Linked DNA regions of Homo sapiens: region 2 is linked to region 1. The links come from fine-mapping of genetic effects on gene expression. A gene starts in region 1. The other region holds a variant in brackets. All regions are shown on one strand. Distances are between the middles of the regions.

Region 1 (12,003 bases):
TCAGGTTAAGTCATGGAGAAACATGAGCCTCACTTTGCAGGAAAGAAAAGCTAAATTTGATGAGTAAACCAGACTTCAGGTGTTTTCTGGAAGGTGTATTTTATCTAATGACTTAGCTTTGCTTTTGTCGCTCCATTCTTTTCCCTCTGAGCTCCAGGAGCAAAGTAGTTTTAGGGTCTTTCTTTTATTTTCATTCAAAACATCTCTTCTTACTCTAGTGATATCATCCCTGGAAGACTGAGAAGTCAGAAGAGGTGAATCACGTGTCACCTTCACATCTCTTCTAGAATTACATCAGTCAGAGCTCTGAGGTGCAGTGGGGATCGATGCCAAAAAGCAGAGGGGAGGAAGGAGAGATGGGGAGGGCACAGACGGAGGAGGAAGGGAGCTGGCTCTTTCCAGCCTGCTTATTTTCTTCTTCCTCCTCCTCAACCTTCAAGCCCCCCTTCCTATTTATAAATCACATGAGAGGAAATATCAGACTTTAAAGAGATGGCTGCTTTATATTTATTGATGGTGTTGGTTTCAACACTATTTGCCTGAACTTTTGGACCAACCACCACATGCCTGTCAGTCACAGATGAAAGCCAACATTGGCATTCTCACAGGACACTTAAACTAGATAAGAATGAAGACACACAGACCCTGCCCTGTCTCCCAAGTATTAGCCATATTATCTTCACTCTGTCTCATCTCTTCATCAGTTTCAAACAGCAGAGGAACTTGGCTATGCATGGGAATAATTTCAAATGTGAAATCTAGTCACGCAGGCTAGTGATGGCCCACACAGCCGTCTGCTTATCAGGTGAGCACACTGGTGTGGAAGGGCTGGGATGGGTGGCTGGGCTGAGACTGGACTTTCCTGACCTCTCTCTAGCTGGGGTTTTTAATGTCATTCAATGATGTGTATCTGAGGTATTCAGGGAGAGGGATCGGGACGCACAACCAAGCCAAAATATAATAGATTCAAAGGCCTGGACGTCCTAAGGCCCTTAAGACTGAATTTTTTTTAAATGTTTTCCACTCAGCTGGGTACAGTGGCTCACGCCTGTAATGCCAGCACTTTGGTAGGCTAAGGTGGGCAGATCACCTGAGGTCGGGAGTTTGAAACCAGCCTGACCAACATGGAGAAACCCCATCTCTACTAAAAATACAAAATTAGCCCGGCGTGGTGGCGCATGCCTGTAATCCCAGCTACTTGGGAGGCTGAGGCAGGAGAATCGCTTGAACCCGGGAGGTGGAGGTTGCGGTGAGCTGAGATTGCACCATTGCACTCCAGCCTGGGTGACAAGAGTGAAACTCCGTCTCAAAAAAAAAAAAAAAATATATATATATATACACACACACACACACACACACACACACACACATATTTTCCACTCGCCCCCTTTGCTTTTCTTTTTTAAAGATAGTTCTATGCCTGAACCATTCCTGTTAATTAGGAAGAAAATCTTTCACCCCTCTTTCCTCTATGGTTCCAGTGAATTCCAGACTCCTTAGGATTTCTGGGTCTAGCTGCTCAGAACATATTTATGATGAAAACAAAGCAAAGTGGCCTCAGGACACCAGGGAAGGCCAGGAGTGAGATCCATTTCTGCAACACAGGAAGAGAGGCCTCAAGGGGCAAAAGGAAAATATAATTTGCAGAAGGCACAGTTTTGGCAGCATCTTATTACAACTTCCAGCTGATCGGGTGTAGCCAAACTAGAGACATCTGTTTGGAGTTTACAACAGAAACAAACACACAGAAAGCATGAAAGCGCTGAAACATGCACACCCATACCGCGCTCTAACAGCTCCTCTCCCCCTCGACCTTCGCGCCATCCCCCAACTGGGTCACACTGGGTTGTAGAAGGGAAGGAAATGGGCTCTGCAGCCTGCCCAGCCACCCACCCACCTGCACCGTGACTCACTCACACCAGGATCGGAACTTGTCAACTTTTCTCTCCTTGGTTTTCCTCCCAGGAAAAACAGAGATGGCCCCACTCCTCAGAGAACTCCTCTTTGGGTTTCTAGTTCATCTTTAAAGCTCCCTGAGCTGTTTGTAAAGGAAAAGATAAGGTAGTCTCCTTACGCTTGATTATTAGCATGGCCCACAGAAGGAGGTAGTAAAATCTCAGCAGATCTGGAAGTCACTCCTCCATAAATAACCTCACAGGTCTGGGAGTGCGATATGGAACTCACCGTGGCCTCTCCAAAAGACCAGAAAAAGATCACACAACTTAATTACTGAAAAATACAGGATAATACAAGAAAAGGCTGGTCCCAGACACAGCACCCAGAGTTGTGGAGGTCCAGGAAGGCCCCAGATGGCGCATAAAGTGGACCTTCCTTCCCTAATTCTCTCCAAGCACAGGAAAGGCCAAAGACTGTCTTATGACACCATCCCAGGGTCAGACACAGCCTCTCCCACCCCAACGCAGCAGTTCCAGACGCTCACCTGTTCTGTTAAATTTTCCTCTTTATTCTCTCCCCACTGGCGTGCAAACAGAACCAGAACAGTGCTACTTTTAAAAAATAACAAAATGTTTTATACACATTTCTGTATATACAACTGAACAACATTTTACATGTTTCTTTTGCACAGCAAAAGATATAAACATTCAGCTCTGAGAACACAGTTATGTACAGAAAAAAGTCAAAAATACTTCACAACAGTGCAAAAATATTTTACACAGTATCATGGAGTGAGATCTTTTGAGCAAGAGGAAGGGTGTGTGTGTTTCTAAAGGAAAACTCCTTTTTAAGATATTGGATGTCTTTAACTGTAAACAAAACGCGACTCTCTTTCATCTCCCCCCACCCCCCAAACAGTTATTTGAAGAATTTGGCAACATTTCAGGGGTCTGAGTCTGAGGTAAACAGCCAGAATTCTTGCACCAAAAAGAACCAAGGGCTAAAGGGTTGCATTAAAGCCTCAAACACCTTGAGAGCAAATTTTTTTTTTTTTTTAATGAGATGTCAGTGACAGCGCAGGGCCGCTCCCAGGGGGTGGGAGGAGGAAGTGAACCCCTCCTCCTCAGGCCCCAGCTGCCCCACAAACAGGAAACTGGCCAGGCACCTACGGCCTGAGACTAGGAACTTCAGCCAACCTTCCCTCACCCGCATCCCAGAGGGGTGCCTCTCTCTCCCTCCTGGCGGGGTTTTCCCCTCTCAAATCTCCCCGCATCCCCACGCGCAACAGAGCCAAAAGTGCTGGGGCGGGAGCGGGGGCCGGGAGGTAGGGGAAAGCGGTCGGGGGAACGCTGGACCTGGGCTCCAAGTGTAGGTCTGGGCCCCAAATGCCCCATTTCCCCCTTCCTGGGGGCGGGCAAGGGACAGGGAGGTTGTCGGGACCACGGATGGGTAGCCACGGTGGAGCGCCGGCGACGCGCGGAGGAGCTCAGCCCGAGTGGGGCTCGTCTGCACTGGCGCCGTCGGCCTGGCGGGACGAGTCCCCGGCGGTGGCGGAGGTGGCGTCAGGGCCCCCGCCCTCGATGGAGCTCTCGCTGCCCGTGCTGTCGCCTGACAGCAGGCGCGTCACCCGCAAGTCGGCCTGCAGGGTGCGCACGTCGTTGCCGAAGCTGAGCTCGCCCAGGTCGCTAATAAGTTGCGACAGCTCAGCCTTCATGTCGGAGGCGCTGCCCAGCAGCAGAGGCGGCGGCCCGGCCCCCGGGCCCAGGGAGCCCCCGCCGCCTCCTAGCGCCTCCCCACGGCCATTCTCCAGAGTATCCAACAAGTCCCCGCACTCAAAGTGCATGGCGACCACTAGCGCACGCTGCGCCTCGGCCTCCTCCTCTGCTGGATCTCCCTCTGCCGCACGGTTCTCCTCCTCCTCCGGGCAGCCCTCGGGTTGCTCCTCTTCCTCTTCCTCCTGCAGCTCCTGCTCCAGCTGTTCGCCGAGCAGGTCCTCGGTGATGGAGCCAAGCTTGGGCGCGCTGCGGCTGCGCTCCACCGGCGGTTTATAGCAGCAGGGTCCGTGTAGGAGCAGCTTGCGCAGCGGCACTAGCGGGATGGTGTGTGCGCCCACCAGCTCCTGCTGCTGGTGACGCGCGTCGTCCCGCCGCTTGAGGCGTTTAAATTCCGCCAGCGCGTTGGCCGACGTCTGGTAGAGCAGCAGGGCCATGGCCTGCGCCTTTTCGGGCTTGGACACCAGCACGGCGTGGCAGCGCAGCATCACGGCCTTGTGCTTCAGCTCGTGCCGGTACACCCAGGCGAAGACCTTGGGCAGCCGCGCGTCGGCCACGCAGTAGGTGACGCGGTGCAGCAGGTAGAGGTGGCCCGGGCGGCGCAGCGCGCGCTCCTCGGCGTGCACCATGCGGATACCCTGCGCACTCACCGTCAGCTTCATCTTGGTGCCCTGACGGCCCGCCTCGCTCTTGCTCCAGATCTTGCCCACAGCAAGGTCGGTGCAGCCGTCGCCGCGCGCCTGGATGGTGGTGGCATTGCCCAGGTAGAGCACGGTGTAAGTTGGGTCCTCGCTAGTGATGTGCAGCTTCTTGCGCTTGGAGCGGAACATGCTGCCCACCCGGCTAAGCGCGCCTTCGGGGCACGCCCGCGCCAGCGAGCTGAGCGCCGAGTAGTGCAGGCTCACAGCGTAGCCCTTGGGCTTGGACGCCTGCCGCGGCGGCGCCTCGGCCAGCAGCTCGAACTTGTGCTTCTTCCACGGCAGCATCTCCGGAGGGCGCCCCGGCGCAGCTGGGCGGCGGCGGCGGCGGAGCGCCGGGTGCGAGGCCCGCTGAGCCACCGGCCCCTGCCAGGCTCGGCCCGGGCAAGATCGAAGAATAAAACTACTGGGAGCGGCCCTGTGGTAGGGAGTTGGGGGGAGGGGAGCAGAGAGAGTGCTTAGGAACCCCGCAGGAGGTGCGGGTAAATTCTCTAAAAAAGAAAATATTCAGCTTCGAGTGTGCAAAAAAGGTTGGTGCGGGGGAGACACGCGCGCACACAGAATTACCCCAGCCTGGGCAAGGGCGAGAGCAAAGAGTCTCAGGCAAGCAACAAAATGCAAGGGAGAAAGAACGAGCGTAGAGTGGAAAATGTCAGGAAAAAAGCTAGAAGCGCGCGTGCAAATAAAGAGAGCCCCAGCAACAGCACCCGGGATGGTGCAAGAATATGCAGGAACTCCTCGGCGAACGTGAGGTGGGTCCCCTAACACACACAACCCTCAGGACTGGGGCCAAAACCCGCGGAAACTCTACAGCGAGTGTGCCTAGGGGCCGGTGCTCCCCACCTCCGAGGGGTGCTGGAGATGGAAAGCCCCCCGTTTGGGCTGGTCTCAAGTCAGCAGCTCGCCCAAAGTGCGGTCGGATGCTGGGTCCGGCTGGCCGCGGCGGGCCCCGCGCAGCAGTCCCGCGGGGACTCACTGCATCTTCGCTCCGCCGGACGCCGGGGACTCGCGCTCGGCCCGCTCAGTGTCCGGGCTGGCCTGGCCGAGACGGCGCTGGGCTCCGAGAACAGGGGACGGGCATGGCCGGGTCCGGGAACCGCCGCTACCTCATTTCTTCCCTCCGAGGCGGTGTCCAGCTCCGCTCCCGGGCTCTCCACGGTCTGCTGCCCGCCTTTGCAGTGCGCCCTCTCCGGTGCTGCGAGCGGCGTCCGGCTCGCCTGCCTCACATCCTTGCCGTCCGGGAGGAAGATCTCGGGTAAATATAGGCCGGCGCGAACCATTCGCCGCGCGGGGACAGGGGAGGAGCAGAGAAGAGGATCTGTTTTGGGCTCCGACTCCGGGCGGATTCCTGGTTTCTTAAAGGGACCGCGTGACAGCCATTGGTCGAGGGAGCGGGGAGACCGGTCCAATCCTCCAATTACATCCCAAATTTACCAGCATCTCTTTTGTCTATGGAAATCACTGGGACCTGGGGTTACCCCGCAGCAAAAAGATTTGAATCCTGACACTCCACCCCCCAGGCTGAATTGCCACTCACTGAATACATGTATGTCTAGATCGAAACTTCTGAGGGAGGTGGCAGAAGATGAGATTACAGATTATAATTTCCTGTACAAAAAGTTTGGGAAAATAGTGGTTTCTTCCTTGTGTGACGGCTTTCTGAGAATGACTGGGTGCTGTTTAATATTATTTTCAGAATTGTATTCCATTAAAGAAAAGAGAGAGGCACAGAAAACACCAAGGCTTATCTCTCACTATCTTGAGCTCGTATTCACAGGTAAGCAGCAGACAGTGTAAAGTGAGGTGAGTGGTAACATGATTGGGGTGACTACTGTAGAATACCGTCAATGAATAAGGCTTTTCCCCGTCCGAACCCCGGCAAGACCCCCTCCTGCTGTCAGGCCTCAGGGTAGAGCAGTTTTCTGAGATACACACAATTTCTAATGCTCGTGTGTCGTTAGGACTTAGTTTACTTTGGCAAGCCGGTCATGCGGTTTCATTCTATCATTGACATATTTTGGATGAGAATTCCTAGTAAAAATTCAAATGACGTTTTTTATTTAAGTGACAAATAATGCCAGGCCACCCTCCAATGGGAGTGATAATTGCATCAGTATTGCTTTTATCATGTGCCAACTGGACAGTGTAGTTGTCTTCTGACCGGCTTGACCCTTAGCCAGTAACTCATTTCTGGGCCCTTGAAACAGCCTGCTTGCCTCTATGGTATGGTCAGTCAAAGCAAAAAGACGTATGGCTGGAGTGGGATCAATGTCCGAATGATCCTGCATCAAACTCCCAGCCTGGTCCTGGAGGAGGACAGTGATCCCTTCCCACCATCCCAGTCCCCTGGGGATCTTTGATGTCTCTGGCTTCCACGCCAGGTCTTCATGCCAGAGTCACTGCAACCATACCTGGAAATTCCCTTGGGATATTCCAACAAAATAAAACTGACCCCTGCCCACCCTCTACCTTTGCCAACTTTTAACCTTCCTTTGAAATCTAACTCAATTTTCTCAGAGTCGTTGATGCTGAGTTTCCATTTAAGTTACTTTGCTGAGTTTCCATTTAAGTTACTTTTCTGACTACCTTTTGGTGCCCGGCCCTGAGCTAGGAGCAGACGGGATTCCTGCCTCCTAGTCCAATGAAGGTTGTAAACTCTACCCAACTCTGGGTTTCCACTGGACTGTGGGTTCTCTGCAAGTACCCTGTATCCCCAATATGGTACAAATAGGCACTCAGTAACTAGAATTAATGAGCAAGATATGCATGTGGACAAGAAGACAGAGTGGGCTAAATGCTATGAGAAAGACTCAAAGCACTATGAGAAGCTGGAGGAAGAAAGCATTCATTGTGACTAGGAAAATCAGAAAAGGCTTCATGGAGGTGGTGACCTTTGAAAGATAAACAGAATTTATCCAAATAGGAAAAGACTGAAGGGCTTTATGGGTATAGAGGGTAGCAAAATTACAGAAGCATGAAAATGCATGCATAAGGCCAGGCGCGGTGGCTCACGCCTGTAATCCCAGCATTTTGGGAGGCTGAGGCGGGTGGATCACTTGAGGTCAGGAGTTCAAGACCAGCCTGGCCAACATGGCAAAACTCTATCTCTACTAAAAATACAAAAATTAGCTGGGCATGGTGGTGCACGCCTGTAATTCCAGCTACTTGGGAAGTTGAGGCAGGAGAATCCCTTGAACCCGGGAGGCGGAGGTTGCAGTAAGCCGAGATCGCGCCACTGCACTCCAGCCTGGATGACACAGTGAGACCGTCTCAAAAAAAAAGAAAGAAAGAAAGAAAGAAAATGCATACACATGTAGTAATTAAGATGGAGCTTGTAACAATCAAAGAATAAACCTTCCTGATTGTGTTTTTTGGCTCTCTTACACTCCAAGGGAAGGAATGGCCTCTTCATGGCTAACTGGCCCCACAGGGTCCTTCAACCAGAGCTATAATGCCTTACTCCTCAGCTGCACTGATGGGTTAATGGAGGGATACCAGACATGCTGTTGGAATGAGGTAGTTAGTACTATAATAAGCCATTTAAGGCAACATTAATTCCTTAAATTTCTAGGCTATCTTGTAGTGGCAATGAAGGAGATAGCACACGCTCTAAAGAACAAAAACTCTGGTAAAAACATATCAAATGAGGCTGTGTTCAGTGACCTTTAGTAGGTCCATAATCTTGAACTCCACAAAAGCAGACATCATGTTTAAGCAGTGATCATTTCCAAATCGCTCAAAGTTCCAAGGCTCAAGAGGGTTTGGGGAAGAGGAAGAGGGAGTAGTAGCAGGAGCTAAGGCTGGTCTCAGCCTCAGCGAGAGGCACCACTTTGCACTTCATGCAGTGGCATGGACCCCAGTGGCCCACAGAGGCAGGGAGGAGTCTACTGGTGGGCCGGGCTGTTCAGCAGCAGCCGGAGTGCCAGTCCCAGCGGCACAGGCCCACAGAGCTGCTCCTGTTGACGAGGCTATGTCACGCCTTGACCGCCTTCCTAATAAGCTTGTTTCCAACCTTGGGAGAACAGAAAGGTTCTAGGCCAGTGTGAACACCCTGGTGTGAGTCATGCCCTGGAGGAGAACCCGCGGTCCCCTTGTGGCCTGGACCTGTGCCAGCCTCTAGGGCCCGCCTCACCTTATGGAGAAGCTGACCACCCCACCTGAAGCACACATCACAATTAAGGCTGCGTTTCTTCAGCTGGGAGAGCTGGCAGCACCATGTGGGAGTCCACATCACAGATCTGAGACAGGGCAACTCCAGAACAGACTGTCAGCAAAGTGGAGCTGGGAAACAGGTTAGAAACTGCAGTGTACTTTTTTAATGACACTGCCCCCATCTACTGGTAGCAGGCAGAAATGCTGCTCGGTGGATGGTTTCTCGTCAAACCAGATAAGCTAGTGGTTGAAACTACACACAACCGGGTCGCAGTTGGAAGGAAATGCTGCCATCAGGAGTCCCAGCCCTAAACTTGACATCCAGGAGTAAGCCTTTCATCTCACAGAGGATTTGGACCAGCTTCCTCCCACCTTACGTCTTACATAATGCTCCTTCCTCTCGCCCCTCCTCCAACATCCTACTCAGTGGACATTGACTTCAGAGATGACACATGACGAATCTGGAATCTTCAATGTCATCTAGTAAATACTTGTGGAGAGTCTCCCATGAATGTCACATAGTTGCTGGGGATATAGCACTAAAGAGGACAGATAGAGAGGTCTTTGCCTGCATGGGATTTATAGCCTCTGGTGGAGGCAGGAGGGCAGACAGTAAACAAAAAACTAATGAAATAGCAGATAGTGAAAAGTCTCTGGAGAAAAGGAGGCAGTGCTAGGAGTGAGAGGTGGCTGGTTTAGACAGCATGGCCAGGGAAGGTGGCTCTGGGCAGAGACAGGAATGAGATGAACCTGCAAAGAGATGGGGGAGAGCATTGCAGCCTGTGCGGCCCAGTACGCAGTCACCAGCCACAGGCTGCTGCTGCCACTTGAACCATAGCTGGCCCAAATTTAGACGCACTACGAGTATGAACTACACACTGGATTTTCAGGACTTAGTAAAACAAAAAGAATGCAAAAAATCTTCATAATGTTATATTCATTATATATTGAATGATAGTATTTTGGCTATGTTGATTTAAATAAATTATTCAGATTAATTTTACCTATTTCTCTAGCCTGGTCAACATGGTGAAACCCCGTCTCTACTAAAAATACAAACATTAGCTAGGCATAGTGGTGCATGCCTATAATACCAGCTATTCGGGAGGCTGAGGCAGGAGAATCACTTGAACCTGGGAGGCAGAAGTTGCAGTGAGCCGAGATTGTGCCACTGCGCTCCTGCCTGGGCGACAGAGCGAGAGTCTGTCTCAAAAAACAACAACAACAACAAAAACTTACCTATTTCTTTTTGCTTCTTTAAGGTGGCTATCAGACACCTTGGTTTTAGCCCAGTGAGGCCCGTGTTGGGTTCTAACCTGCAGCGCTGTGAATTTGTGTTGATTTAGGCCACTACGTTCGTGGCAGTTTGTTCCAGCAGCAGTACACCTCCCATCCAGCCATCTTTTCCCTTATCCTGACTCTCTTCCCTCTCCCACTCTCCTCAACACATACGCTAAGTCCTCACTAGTTTCCCAAAGCCACTGGCTCCCCCAGAGCTCAGCAGAACTGACCGGGTGCTTCCCCCACAAAAACGAGGCAGTTAGAGCAACCTCCAGCCCCTGCCAACCTACAAAAAGCACGTCCACACCCAAGCCCACCTCCCTCCTCCAGGCTCCGAAGTCTCTCCTCCCTTCAACCTGCCCCTCTGAAAGCCACCTTCAATACTTACCAAACCACACCTCTGACCTTTTCTCTCTTCCCCTTTTAACCTTCAAAATGGCTTCCCATCAGCCACACGGTACACTCCCACTCCTCAGTATAACACATGAGAATGTTCAGGTCTGGCACCTGCCTATGTCTCCAACCTCATTCTTTTCTCCTGGACTCCTAATTTATGAACCAGCCACAGAGAATAGCCTATGCTTCTCCCCATGCTCATGAGAGTGGTTTTTCCCTTCCTGCCATGCCTTATGTGGCTCTATCTAACTGATATGACCTCCTCCTGCCATTTGTCCCGGCCAAGGCTTACTCATTCTTACAGAGCCATCTTGGATACCATTTTCTCCAGGTAAACCGCCTAGGCCTACTCATCGCCTCTCCACATGCCCTTGTGTGCATCCTTACCTCTGCACTTGCCCTGTTATAATATTGTCTTTTTTTGAGTCTTGCTGTGTTGCCCAGGCTGGAGTGCGTGATCTTGGCTCACTGCAACCTCTGCCTGCCAGGTTCAAGTGATTCTCCTGCCTCAGCCCCTTGAGTAGCTGGGATTACAGGCACCCACCACCATGCCCGGCTAATTTTTTTTTTTTTTTGAGATGGAGTCTCTGTTGCCCAGGCTGGAGTGCAACGGCACAATCTCGGCCGGCTGCAACCTCTGCCTCCTAGGTTCAAGTGATTCTCCTGCCTCAGCCTCCTGAGTAGCTGGGATTACAGGTGCGCAAAAGCGCGTCTGGCTAATTTTTGTATTTTTTAAGTAGAGACGAGGTTTCACCAAGGCCAGGCTGGTCTCGAACTCCTGACCTTGTGATCTGCCCACCTCGGCCTCCCAACATGCTGGGATTACAGGCGCGAGCCACCGTGCCTGGCCTATAGTATCGTCTTTAACTCTCTGTCTCCCCCAGTAGACTATGGGCTCCTTATGGCTGGTGACTGTATTTTATTCACTCTTTGTATCCCCAACTTCCAGCACAATGCCAGCCACCAAATTAATGTATGGCAAGTGTTTCTAGAACGAACATTAACCATGTGTTTATTTTCAAAGTCATGGGACTGTCATGAGCACAGACTGTCAGAACTGGAAGAGCGTTGTCTGGAAGGCCCTTCGAGATAATCTAGTCAACCTCCCCTGGCTTTACAAATGAGGACACTGAGGCCCTGACAGCGCAGGTGCATGGCCATACAGTAACTTAGTGGCCACACCAATATGAGGATCCATGTGGTCTGAATCTCAATCCAGGGCCCTTTCCTGTGGCTAAACGTAAAGCCAAAAGCTTCTAAACACATATATGTATGTAGAACCCACGTCCTTCGTTTGCTCCCCCTCTAGGAAGAGCTGCTTGGGGGCTCACAGGTTCATTTGATGATCTGAACAGGAGCAGAAAGCCAAACATACTTCTGTGACTTGACTGAGTGGCCACTCGCTGGGCCCCTTAATGAAAAGTGCACTTTGCTAATGGCTCTCACTGCCCCCAAAGACGTTAGAGTCAAGCATGACTGTCACAGGACTCCACCAGTGAGACGGGTCTCTGTTGTGGTCGACATCGCACTTGGGTCTCTGAGAGTCTGGTAGCCCATTTCCCATTGCAGGAGAAATAACTTGTAGTCAAACAGTGCCCAGACCAGGGCCCTCTTTAGGAAGGAAGTGGACTTCATGCTAAGCATGGAAGGAGGGGCAGATTGCTGTCAACAGAGGCAGGAGAGAGCGGTCCAGAGGAAGAAAATGGCCCATGCAGAAGGTAGTTAGTGTTGAACATCCAACAACTGGGCAAAAGGAGGGAATGCAAAAGCACTGAGCCCCTACCGCATGTCAGACACTGTGCTGAGTC
Region 2 (12,003 bases), 420 kb before region 1:
CACACACCATACACATGCACACATACATGCACACTTATACACTACACACATGCCACACACAGACACACCATACACGCACACACACGCTGCTGGCTTGGGAGAGCCAGGCCTGGTTATTCCGCCTTCTCGAGAGTGTGCCTCAAGGTGTTCAGCTATAGTGAAGGCGCTGCTGGGCTGTCGGCCTCTGCTGTGGAAGTACCTTGCCTGTGCCCTCCTTCATAAAATGATGCTCCTGTTCAAGAGTGGAGATCTGCAAGCAACGAAGAGAGAGTATCTGGAGGAATGCTGAGCATGAATTTTGGGGGTAGTGGGACTGGGTGATTAACAGTCCTGGCTCTGCCCCTTTCGAGTTCACTTTCCTGAGAATTCACTGCTTTATCAATATATTGGAAATAATAATACCTTTGGGGTTTTCGTGAGAACTAAAGAAAATACAGGTAAAGCTCTGAAGTAGTGCTTACCTCACAAGATAATAGCTGCCTTAATTATTATTTCTAGCCACTGTGTGGGACGTGACGTTACCAGTAGGGTGTTGTAAGGACATCCTTGGATTTACTTTCTAGCTTCATGGAGGGGGAGAGTGAAATTGAGTTATAGTCACATGCTGCGTAACATTTTGGTCAATATATGATGGTGGTCCCGTCCGATTATAATACCATATTATTACTGTACCTTTTCTATGTTTGGATATGTTTAGATAGACAGATACCATTGTGTTACAGGCATCTACAGTATTCAGTATAGTAACATGCCATGCAGGTTTGTAGCCTAGGAGCAGCAGACTGTACCATACAGCCCAGGTGTGTGGTGGGCAATACCATCTAGGTTTGTGGAAGTCACTCTGTGTGTTCACACAAAGACGAAATCACCTAACAATGCATTTCTCAGAGCAAACTCTGTTGTTAAGCGATGCGTGACTGTATATGTGTGTTGTTTTTTCTTTACGATTTGTAAAGTTTTCCAGATTTTTTACTCCAAATGTGTATTTTACAGACAGGAAATCAATTTTCTAAAAAACTAGGAAGATGCTACTAAGTCTCAAATAAAACAAGAGTTAGCAGTTTGATAAGAGTCAAAGGCTCTTGAGAAAGTTCCCAGTTACGCCGCTGGTTCATAGGATTTCTGCATGTTTTTATCAGTATGGTGGTTTGCGTTTCTAATTAATGTTTATGCCTAGCTGGTTGTAACATGCAGTTATGTTTAGTAAAGAAAAACAAGAATGGATGGAAGAATATATGAACATTGCAGGCCAGGCCCAGAACTGGGACTTGCAGCTCAGGTGACCCAGGGTTGCCTCTGCAGGTCACCTAGGTCTCTCTGTAAGATGAAAGGCCAGACCCCCCTATGGGGAGTGGTGGGAGATGCATACAGCTAGAGGGAGGTTTCCAGCCACTTCTCATCTGACACGGTTCAACTGCATGAGAGCCGAATGGCATCAGAGTTGTGTTGGCCAGATAAAATGGGTTGTGTTGTGTGTAGGGACCCTCCTCAGCACTGGCCAGCAGCTGACTGGAAGAAGGGCCCCACTGTGCGGAGGCCTGGGCGGGTGATGCCTCCACGTGGGAGTCTCCATTTTCCTCATTTAAGAAAGGAGGTGGTGTCTCTACCAAGTTGGCCTCATGAGGCCATGAGGATTCCGAACACTGAGGGGCTGGATCCCCGCCAGAAGCGCAGGGAGGACGGGGTCACAGTGCGGAGAATACTGACTGTTCTTGCTAGGTTTGCCCCCCTGGCACTTGTGGCTCTCCTCCCCTTCCTCCTCCCCCTCCTCCTCCTCCTCCTCCTCCCCCTCCTCCTCCCCCTCCTCCTCCCCTTCCTCCTCCCCCTCCTCCTCCCCCTCCTCCTCCCCCTCCTCCTCTCCCCCTCTTCCCCCTCCTCCTCCCCCTCCTCCTCCTTCCTCCTCCTTCTTCTTCTTCCTCCTCCTTTCTTCCTTTTTTTTTTTTTTTTGAGACGGAGTTTTGCTCTTGTTGCCCAGGCTGAAGTGCAGTGGCATGATCTTGGCTTACTGCAAGCTCCACCTCCTGGGTTCAAGCGATTCTCCTCCCTCAGCCTCCTGAGTAGCTGGGATTACAGGTGCCCGCCACCATGCCCGGCTAATTTTTGTATTTTTAGTAGAGGCGAGGTTTCGCCATCTTGGTCAGGCTGGTCTCGAACTCCCGACCTCAGGTGATCCGCCCGCCTCGGCCTCCAAAAGTGCTGGGATTCCAGGCGTGAGCCACCGCACCCGGCCACCTCTCTTCTTTTTGAAGGGCGTCTGGACTCAGCTTTTCGTCTTGCTGAAAATGTGAAGCTGTAAATGAAAGTCGTTCTGGGCAAAACAAAACGAGAGCTCTCCATTCCACCAGGCAAAGGGCAGGTGCCTGTGTGTGTTTGGGATTTATTTTTATTTTCTAATCCCATTGCCAACAGAAAAAGATTCTGTGGAGCCTCTGATTGTATTACCATCCGGGAGCCGTTTATCTGTCGTCTGTGGGATGCTTGGCCCGATGTCCAGGGCTCCAAGTGTCTACTCTCCTCCCCCCGTCACCCCCACCTCTAGGGGGTGTTTTGGAGAATTTGGCCTTGGCCTAGGAGGGTAAGTGCCCAGGGTTCCATTCTGTCTCAGGGTCTTAGGACGGAAGCCAGACAGCTTGATGGTCCTGAGGCAGACAGAGGTGGCAGCTGAAGACAGTGGTGAAAGAAGTGTGGAAGAGGACTTGGCTCCTGATGACCTGATGGGTGGCCAGCCCCCCACCCCAGCTTCTTTGCTGGGGGCGCCCCAGGCCCCTCCCGCTCTGCGGCCCTCCCTGCCGCGGCGTGCCTGCAGTTCCGCGCCTCGCCGGCAGGGGTCTCGCCTGTGTCGCGGCCGGATCTGCACGCGGGTCTAAGAACTCAGGGCCCTCCCACCGCAGCCCCGAATCACCGAGCCCTGGAAGGTTCCAGCGAGCCCGGCGTAGACACCGCCGTGAGGCCCGGGAGAAGGGAAGGGGCAAGTCCAGTGAGAGAGGGTGTGTGCGGGGCCGTGCTGGGGCCAGAACCTTTCAGGGGGTTGGGGGTGAGGGTTAGGTGGGAGTGCGGAGCAAGAGCATCTCTCCATCAAAAACACAACAAGAGCATCTCTCCATCAAAAACACAACAAGAGCATCTCTCCGTCAAAAACACAGCAAGAGCATCTCTCCATCAAAAACGACACAGCACAGCAAGAGCGCCTCTCCGTCGAGAACACTAGTGAATGACAGAATGGCAGTGTATTGAGCTTCCACAAAGAGGTTTTATTGTTTTTTTCAGAGTGATCATATGAAGTAACTTTATTGATTGGTAACTTTATTAATCATAACAAATTGGGCACTTTTGGATAAAGAGACCACGTTTAATTTAAAGTATTCTTTTTCCATAAGAAGCAATACCTATGGTGTTCAAGTCAATAGTTAAATGCTACGCGCCGGTGAAATGCTGCCGACATTAATCAGAAGTAAATAATACAGGAAAGGGGAAGGCTTTAGTCTTACTAAGAAGTGATGATATGAGAGTAAGGGAAGGTGGGGAATAAGAAGTATGCCATGGAATGCTGGTGACAGCTGGAAACGTCACCAGGAAAGGAGAGAGGGAAGCGCAGGGAGGCCAGGAATAATACCATGGTTTCCTCACAGTTTCACCGACGGTGGGAAAATGACCTGGGGGGCTCTGCCATGGTGTAGGTCTGGCTCAGGGATCCCTTGGCCCCCGCTGATAGTTGAAACAGGTCTCCAAATCACTGCTCGGTGGCCCCGTGAGTGGACGCGGAGGCGCAGACTTGGCTGCAGCATTCAGGGATGGACTCTGTTGTTAAACGACAATTTCCTGTTATGTCATTTTCTCCACCATCTGACACACTTTCAACACTCACATACCTTTGAACAGAAGTTTAAATAAAAGTCTGTTGACTTTGCACTTGAGTCCTGCTGTGGACTTCACGTGGCCCTTTGCCTTTGGGCGTAAGTCAGACGAGATGATGATACGGTGTGTAGATATGTCTGTTTCTCTTAAACTTTGGTGAATATCCTGGGGACAGCTGTACTCTCCAGTCACAGGATCAAAGCTTACTGCATCTTCCTGAAGAGTCAGTTTTACTCAAAGATTTAGTAGAGGGAAAATTCGTCTGTTAAAACATATGCTTATATATTATAGAGTTTTAATTTTTCATAAACCATTTAGATAAGACACACTTTGACACACTTGGTTGTGTCCCAGGTCCCCTTGACATTCACCTCTTTCCTATCCATGGGGTCAGCATATTTTGTGGTTTTATCATTCTTGTGATAGTATTTGACCATTATGAACTGGAGGTGTGAAACACTAGTGAGCAGTTGGTTATATGGATGAAATACAAACCAGCCAGTGGTTTCCAAATGCGGCGCAGCCACACCACTATCCCCAGGGCACCTCAAAAGACAGGCTCTCAGGCCTTGTCCCAGGCATCCCAATACTGTTGGTCTCCAAAGCTGCGTTTTGACCATGTACCCAAAGTGATTCTGGCTTGTAGCTAGACTTGCGAATCAAAGAACCAAATGGTTTATTCTAACTGTAGACACTGGGAAAGGGACTGCAAACTGATATTCCACAGACCAGACAGAAGAGGGTTTTTGGTGTGGGGTTTTTTTTGTTTGTTTTTGTTTTTGCCTGTAGCATTTTGTTGTTGTTGTTACTTTGTATTAGTTGCCAACATTTAAAATCAAGGTATTCCGTAGCTTTCCTTTAAAACTCAGAAGTCAGGATGATACTAGGCCTGCCTTTTCTCCAGAACCCCTGGCCTCAGCTGAACAGCAGCAGCCTCTCTCAGGTGGTCGTGCCACGCTGTCTGGATCTCCCGGGTCCCCGCCTCGTCCCCACTGCCTTGCTCTCTGGGAGCTTGAGGTTGTGATCCCCTGCTCAGTGAACACATGGTCGTGTGAGCAGCTGAATCTCACATACCCTTTCCCAGCAGGCAGCATGAGTCCACTGCTGCCCCACCCCCTCCCCGCAAGGGAACTGCTCACCTGGGCACTGCTGCCTGGGAAGTGAAGTATTGTAGAAAGAAGAACTTAAGCTGAGGAATGATTGGGACTCAGAACCATCTCCTCTGCTTGCTACTTCTTGTCTTTGAACCACTTCTTCATACTTCTGTTTCTGTTCCTAGAGCCTCGTTTTCCTCTCATGGCATCTGCCCTCTCATAAAATACACACACACACACACACACACACACACACACACACACACACACACACGGAGCCCTCATCACCGTCATCACCGTCACAGTGGGTGTGTGCTCCCAAAGGGCTTCTACTCATCAGTAGATTTCATGGGCCCGACCTCCCATTTTCCTTTCCCCATTGCTCCCATTCTAAACTGTGGGTCCATCTGTATGTAATGTCTAAAAAGGCGCCCAAACACCAGTTGGAAATAGTTGTTATAGGAAAATGTATTCAGAATTCCAAACAACAGACTTAAAGTGATGAACTTCTAGTGCGTCAAACCTTTCTCCCCTCGTTGGAGAGGCCACAGGGTTAGGCAGGAGCATAGGGACTCTCAGCCTGTGCTGGCCTTTCTCAGTAATCAGAAGCATATGACCCCAGCTAGTATTTTCAGCTAGTTATGCCAGGGACTGTCTTTTATTCCATGAGGTCAAAGGACACACTTGGAATTGGTCACCTGACAAGATTGCATTGTTTCTCTAATTTTTTTTTCCCTAGTTTCTCAGGGCCTGAATTTCATTCCTCTTGCCCAGTGACTTCCCCTTGATGGATTCTAAAGGTCTCACAGAACAGCACCTCTTCTGTCATTTATCTGAGTCTAGGTAAAGGCACAGCGACAGTGAATGTAAGGGCCTTTAAAAGGCTTCAAAAGACAAAGAACATGTTCCTATTTAAAATTAATTTCTCTCTTGTTTTACCTACACTGATTCTTTCTAGGTTCTGAGTGTGTGTGATTTAGGCCCATGCAGCCTCTAACAAATGCAGAAGAGATGGACGCAGGCCGCTGGTGTGGGGTGATGGACGCAGGCCGCTGGCGTGGGGTGATGGACGCAGGCCGCTGGCGTGGGGTGATGGACGCAGGCCGCTGGCGTGGGGTGATGGACGCAGGTCGCTGGCGTGGGGTGATGGACGCAGGTCGCTGGTGTGGGGGTGCATTCCTGCACTCCTGTTTTTCTGTCACAGAACCACCAGTGGCCCAGCATTAACTAAACTAGGCCCAGCCTCATGGCCTGGAATTCCAGTCTGTTATCTGGAGCAAATCAGCATTTCCGTCCAGCGTTCCTAGGCTCCCTTTTATCTGCCCCCCACAGCACTGACTGTTACTAGCGTGAGCCGCCACTTCTCCCCGTTCAGTGCAGGCTGGCAGTACGGGGTTGATTCCTTAGACATATAAAAATCTGGCAAAATCAGAAAACAGTCATTCTCACTTCACACCTGATAGAATAGCCATTGTCAAAAACACAAGAGATAGCCACTGTTGGCGAGGGTGTGGAGAAGAGGGAGCCCCAGCACGCTGCACCGTTGGTAGGAATGTAGGTTGGTACAGCCATGATGGAAAACAATATGGAAATTCCTAAAGAAATAAAACTAGAACTACTATATGACTCAGCAGTCCTTCTTCTGGGCATTGACCCAAAGGAAATGAAATCACTACCTCGTAAAGATAACTGCTCTCCCGTGCTCACGGCAACGTTATTCACAGTAGCCAAGA[T/C]ACGGAAAGAACCTAAATGTCTGTTGATAGATGAATAGAGAAAGAAATTGTAACATACAAGACACACACACACACACACAAAACGGAATATTACTCGGCCTTTAAAAAGAAGGAGTCATACCATTTGCCACAGCGTGGATGAAACTTGGAGGACATTATTGCTAAGTGAAATAAGCCAGACACAGAGAAAAAATATGTCGCATGATCTCACTTATATGTAGAATCTTTTTAAAAAGAGGAAAAGCTGAATACACAGCGGTAGAGAAGAAAATGATGGTTACCGTGGCCACGGCGAGGGTGAGGGAGGAAATGGGGAGATACCAGTCAGGGGATACAGCGTAGCAGACGTGTGGGATGAACGGGTCTAGAGGGTTCATGTGTGACATGAGGGCTATCATCCATAATATCGTATTCATGAATTTTGCGAAAAGAGTTTGTTTTAGGTGCTCTTGCCACACACACAAAGATGAGTAACAATGTGAATTGATGGATATGTTAATTTGCTTGACTATTGTAACCATTTCACTACCTGTGTATTTCAAAATATCATGTTGTATATCTTACATAGAATTCAGAAGACATTCATTCTATTCTGTTGGAAAACATAGACTCAGATATACCAGACAATTCTCTTTTTCCCCCTCCCCTCCCCTCCCTTTCCCTTCCCTTCCTCCTTCCATTCCTCCTCTCCTCCCTTCCTCTTTCTCTCTTCCTTTTTTTCTGTTTCTTTACTTTCTTTCTGTCCTCCCTCCCCGCATCCCTCCCTCCCCCGTCCCCTCCCCTCCCCTCCCTTTCCCTTCCCTTCCTCCTTACATTTCTCCTTTCCTCCTTTCCTCCGTTCCTCTTTGTTTCTTCCTTTTTTTCTGTTTCCTTACTTTCTTTTTCTTTCTTCCCTCCCCTCTCCTCCCCTCCCCTCCCTTCCCCTCTCCCCTTTTTTTTTCAATAGAGATAGGGTCTCGCTACATTTCCCAGGCTGGACATAAAGCCCTGGGCTCCAGCAGTCCTTTTGCCTCAGCCTCCCAGGTAGCTAGGATAACAGGAACACACCACAGCACCCGGCTCAGATGTATTTTTTGCTATATCCCAATTTCATATATTTCATCTTTAAAAGGGGCCAGATGTTATCATTTTCATTCAGGAAATATGTTAATTAGAGCTACATGTATAACTGCCATATTTTATCCAAATCTCACTGAAATATGTAGTATACAAAAGGAATGTCCCTGGGACTTACTAATGTTTTAAAATATTTATGAAAGTGATAGCAGTTGTGTGCATTTCTAGAAAAAGTAATAAATGGGAAGGAAATGGTTTTGCAAAAGAGGATGTGTTTACCCATTTCATCATCATGATGCCCTGAGAGTAAAGATACTAACCAGCCAGAGAGATTCTGTTTTTTCCTAATGTGATTTAAGAGATTTTGATGAAGGTGGCAGTGGGGGTACAGTGTTTAATTAACTAGTACATGTTCTCCTTAATTGCTCCCAATCAATTAAGTCGAACATTCAAGCTGGGGGTACCTGCCCAAGCGCCGTAAGGACGGCATAGCACTGGCAAGAGGCCTGGCGGCTCTGAAGGTGACATATTATGTACTTGTCATAGCCTCACTGTCACGTGCTGGGAGGTGCTTTGTGGATTACAGCAGTGAGGCTGGGGAGCTGCTGGGATTGCGCCAGAAGCCCTTCACAGAGACTGGCAGAGGCCTTGGCTGTGGGCCGCTCTGTGGAACCTATAGCTGTCTTGGAAAAGGCTAGTTATATCCTTGCAGTTGGACAGTGAAAGTATACCTGTCTAGACTAGTTCGCTTCAGTAAATTTGGACTGAGTCCCTGCTTTGTGCCAGGCACAGGGTTAGGCAGCAGGGATATCCGATATAAAAAGACACAGTCTCTGTCCCCAAAGAACTCACAGTTTAATAGGACAGAAAGGGATGTAGGATCAGTATAAACCCCACAACCATAGACATAGTCCAAGGCTTGGGGGCGAGGAGGGAGCTGAACAAAGGACATGGCCTGTGAGCTGGGTTTTCGTGACAAGAAGTTTTCTGGTGGACGAGGAGGGAGAAGGGCACCACAGCCTCAGTGAGGGTAGCGTGTGTAGGCCCAGGAACTTGGGTCTGGGTGGAGTACAGGGGAGAGTGCCGGGGAGAGTGCCAGGGAGAGAGGAGGAGGAGGCTGGCAGGGGTAGAGGCCACATCACCGGGAGCCTTATGTGTTGGGCTAAGGTGACGTTAATTCTATAGGCACTGAGGAGCATGACATTAGCCTGATGCCAGGGCAGAAGACTCTGCAGATGCCTGCCTTCTGGGGGAGGCGCTGTGATGTGTGTGCTAAATGTGTCCCTCCTTGTCCTGGCCAAAGCACACTGTCCGGTGCTCTGGTGGGTAAAACTCCTGCTGTACCTGGCTTCCATGCCATATAGGCCACACTTTCCCAGATAGGACCCCATGCTAGGTGTGGAGGCAGGAGATTCGGAGACCAGTAGGAAACCAGCCCTGTCCATCTGGCCGTCAGACATCCACAGAGGATGAATAAAGGAGGGACAGACATGGCTGGGCCACTCCTTGCCTGTCGCATGAAGCAGGGGGAACGGTGGTGGCGGGGAGATTGGTTTCAGGTGCAGGATCTCAGACAGCTTTATGCAGGGACTGGAAGTTCCAGATTTGCAAATTTGGAAGTTCCAAATTTCCACTACTTTATTCTATAGATATTTATTGTACTTTATTTAGTCTGTCTTCTTTTTTAAGTAAGACAGGGAGAATTTTTCTCTTCTCCCTCCATTTTGTGCCCAGTGAGAAACAGATCCCAATTATTGACTGAAGCTACACTTTAGAAACAACTTTTTCTTAAGAACTTTTACACTGAACAAGATTCAAATATAGTTACTGCATTTTTTTTTTTTTTTTTTTTTGAGACAGAGTCTCGCTGTGTCGCCCAGGCTGGAGTGCAGTGGCGCGATCTCAGCTCACTGCAAGCTCCGCCTCCCAGGTTCACGCCATTCTGCAGCCTCAGCCTCCCCAGTAGCTGGGACTGCAGGTGCCCACCACCACGCCCGGCTAATTTTTTTGTATTTTTAGTAGAGACGGGGTTTCAACGTGTTAACCAGGATGGTCTTGATCTTCTGACCTCGTAATCCACCCGCCTCGGCCTCCCAAAGTGCTGGAATTATAGGCATGAGCCACCGCGCCCAGCCCAGTTACTGCATTTAATTCTTCGTCAGATGGTTCTGTCTTTGCTAACTTGCACAGGGAAAGGGGCTTGTGAACACCTTTATTATGGAGAATGGATTTTACTTTCAGCTGACTTGACTGCGTCCAGGCTGACAGCACAGGCCCCAGATGGTGGTGCTGGTTTGGGAGGCACTGTAATGTGTGTGCTAAATATGTCTCTCTGTGGTCATGATGCCTGGGTGGTGATGGACACAGATCATGGCTGTCCAGCTGCTACCCCACACGTGAGTCCACGCACCTGCGCCAGGGTCAACCTCGTATGTGTGAAGCTGAGCACGTTTATTTATTTCTTAGAGTTTATTATTTTAATCTCTTGGGAAGGGAGAGGGAGAGGAGAAAATAGACCCTCTTCAACAGCAAGCGGTTGTTTGAGAACGCGGTGTCTGTCTGCCATGTCCTCGGTTCCCCTGGTACATTCCACGTTAATTACACCGTACTCTGCTACCACAGTTTTTCCTTTGGTATCCACAGCTTTGGAAAGTAAATACATTGTGATTGTGGAATGGTCTGTGCTTGAAGCAATGAGATGGAAAGGGAGAAGCAGCAGCCCTGCCAAGCCAAGGGGCACATGTCCCAAGTCAACAGGGCCGCTCAGGGCTCGGGCAGAACATGGGACGGAAAGCCCTGAGGCAGCTTGGAGACCCCAGGCTGCAGGCCAGGAGGCCCAGGGAGGGTCCCACCCGTAGGTAGTGTTGGAATGAGGCAGAGAGTGAGTTTTCCAGTCCCTCTGATTGCCATCAAGAGGCACCAGGGCCTTAACTGTCAGAACCCATAGGAAAAAAATCACTTTCTTCTGATGACGGGCTCTGCAGCAGGGGCCAGCGCAGCGAGGAGGGCTCCCGAGACCTTGACAGCATCAAGGCCCGTGGCTTCACCTCCTCTGCCACTGTGAAGAGAGATTATGGTCAAATATATACATAACACAGAATTCGCCATTTTAACCTTTTGTTGTTGTTGTTGAGACAGTCTCTCTCTCTGTCTCCCAGGCTGGAGTGCAGTGGCACGATCTCCGCTCACTGCAAGCTCCGCCTCCCGGGTTCACGCCATTCTCCTGCCTCAGCCTCCCAAGTAGCTGGGACTACAGGCGCGCACCACCACGCCCGGCTAATTTTTTGTATTTTTAGTAGAGACAGGGTTTCAACATGTTAGCCAGGATGGTCTCGATCTTCTGACCTCGTGATCCACCCGCCTCAGCCTCCCAAAGTGCTGGGATTACAGGCGTGAGCCACTGCACCTGGCTCCATTTTAACCGTTTTGAAGTGTACAGTCACTGGCATTAATTCTATTCACAATGTTGTACAACCATCACCACCGTTTCTCGTATATGTGCATCACCCCAAACAGAAACCCTGTACCCATTCAATAATAACTTCCCATTTCCTGCCTCTCCCCAGCTCTAACCTGCCTGTGAGCGTGCCTGTTCTTGGTATTTCCTGTGTGTGGAATCATGCACATTTGTCTCCTCCGCCACTCTCTGCTGCCCCTAGGCCCAGAAGCACACTGTTCCCCTCCCGACCCGCCCCACTGCTGGGACTGTGGGACTCTGTGGGTCCTTCCTTATTCACCACCACAGTACCTTCCATGAGCCTTTCTCGGTTCCCCTCCACCAGTCTCATCTTTTCTTTGTCCAGACATTTGGTTTGAAGCGTCTTTCCTGCCCAGCCTGACTTCTTTGTGTGTGCGTGGTGGGGGGGTGGGGGCATTTGTGTGAGGGTCTTTTCTCCACTCACACTCCCCCGGAGAATCAGAAGCAGTTGTGTGGTCCCAGCGGAGGTGCTCAGGGCTGGGTTTTATCTTGGCGACTGTTCACAGGGTGCTCGCCATGCACTGAGAGGCAGCCGAGGACAGTCTTATCAGTGGGGGCTCCAGGCCAGGCTGCCTGGGTTTAAATCCAGACCTCACCACTTACTAGCTGGGGGGCTTTGACTCAATTCCTTAACCCTTGTAAGCCTCAGTTTCCTTGTCTATAAAGTGGGGATCATGATAATAACAACCTCATAAGTTTATGAAAGCTGAATGAGGTCACAGATATAAACACAACAGTGCTTGCATGTGGTGGCACGTGGTGCTAGCTACGTGTTGATACGCATTTG

Alleles and levels. Alleles are on the strand shown, and positions count from the first base shown. SD is a standard deviation of normalised expression in the study named.
With allele C in place of T in region 2, the expression in fibroblasts of the gene that starts at base 5,598 in region 1 is higher (moderate effect, 0.70 SD a copy in GENCORD).

Evidence for each region. PIP is the estimated chance that this variant, and not a neighbour inherited with it, causes the effect.
Region 2: its variant is fine-mapped to the expression of FAM43A in fibroblasts (GENCORD, PIP 0.95).

Annotation. Positions count from the first base shown.
Region 1 is chr3:194,679,478-194,691,480 of GRCh38, reverse strand. FAM43A (family with sequence similarity 43 member A) reads right to left here and starts at 5,598. Exons shown (of 1, transcript NM_153690.5): 1 at 2,444-5,598. The coding sequence starts at 4,654. The coding sequence ends at 3,383. LOC124909474 reads left to right here and starts at 4,572. Exons shown (of 3, transcript XM_047449428.1): 1 at 4,572-5,621; 2 at 6,063-6,143. The coding sequence starts at 5,228. RefSeq lists enhancers at 1,782-1,901, 3,748-4,251, 4,252-4,757, 5,509-5,868, 8,554-8,603 and silencers at 3,449-3,748, 4,579-4,768.
Region 2 is chr3:195,097,419-195,109,421 of GRCh38, reverse strand. All of the region lies in intron 3 of XXYLT1 (xyloside xylosyltransferase 1), which reads left to right. It overlaps LOC124909476 (a long non-coding RNA gene), which reads left to right and starts at 2,879. Exons shown (of 2, transcript XR_007096226.1): 1 at 2,879-5,792; 2 at 5,908-6,570. RefSeq lists a silencer at 2,822-2,991 and an enhancer at 5,585-6,784. The variant T/C (reference allele first, on the strand shown) is at 6,683.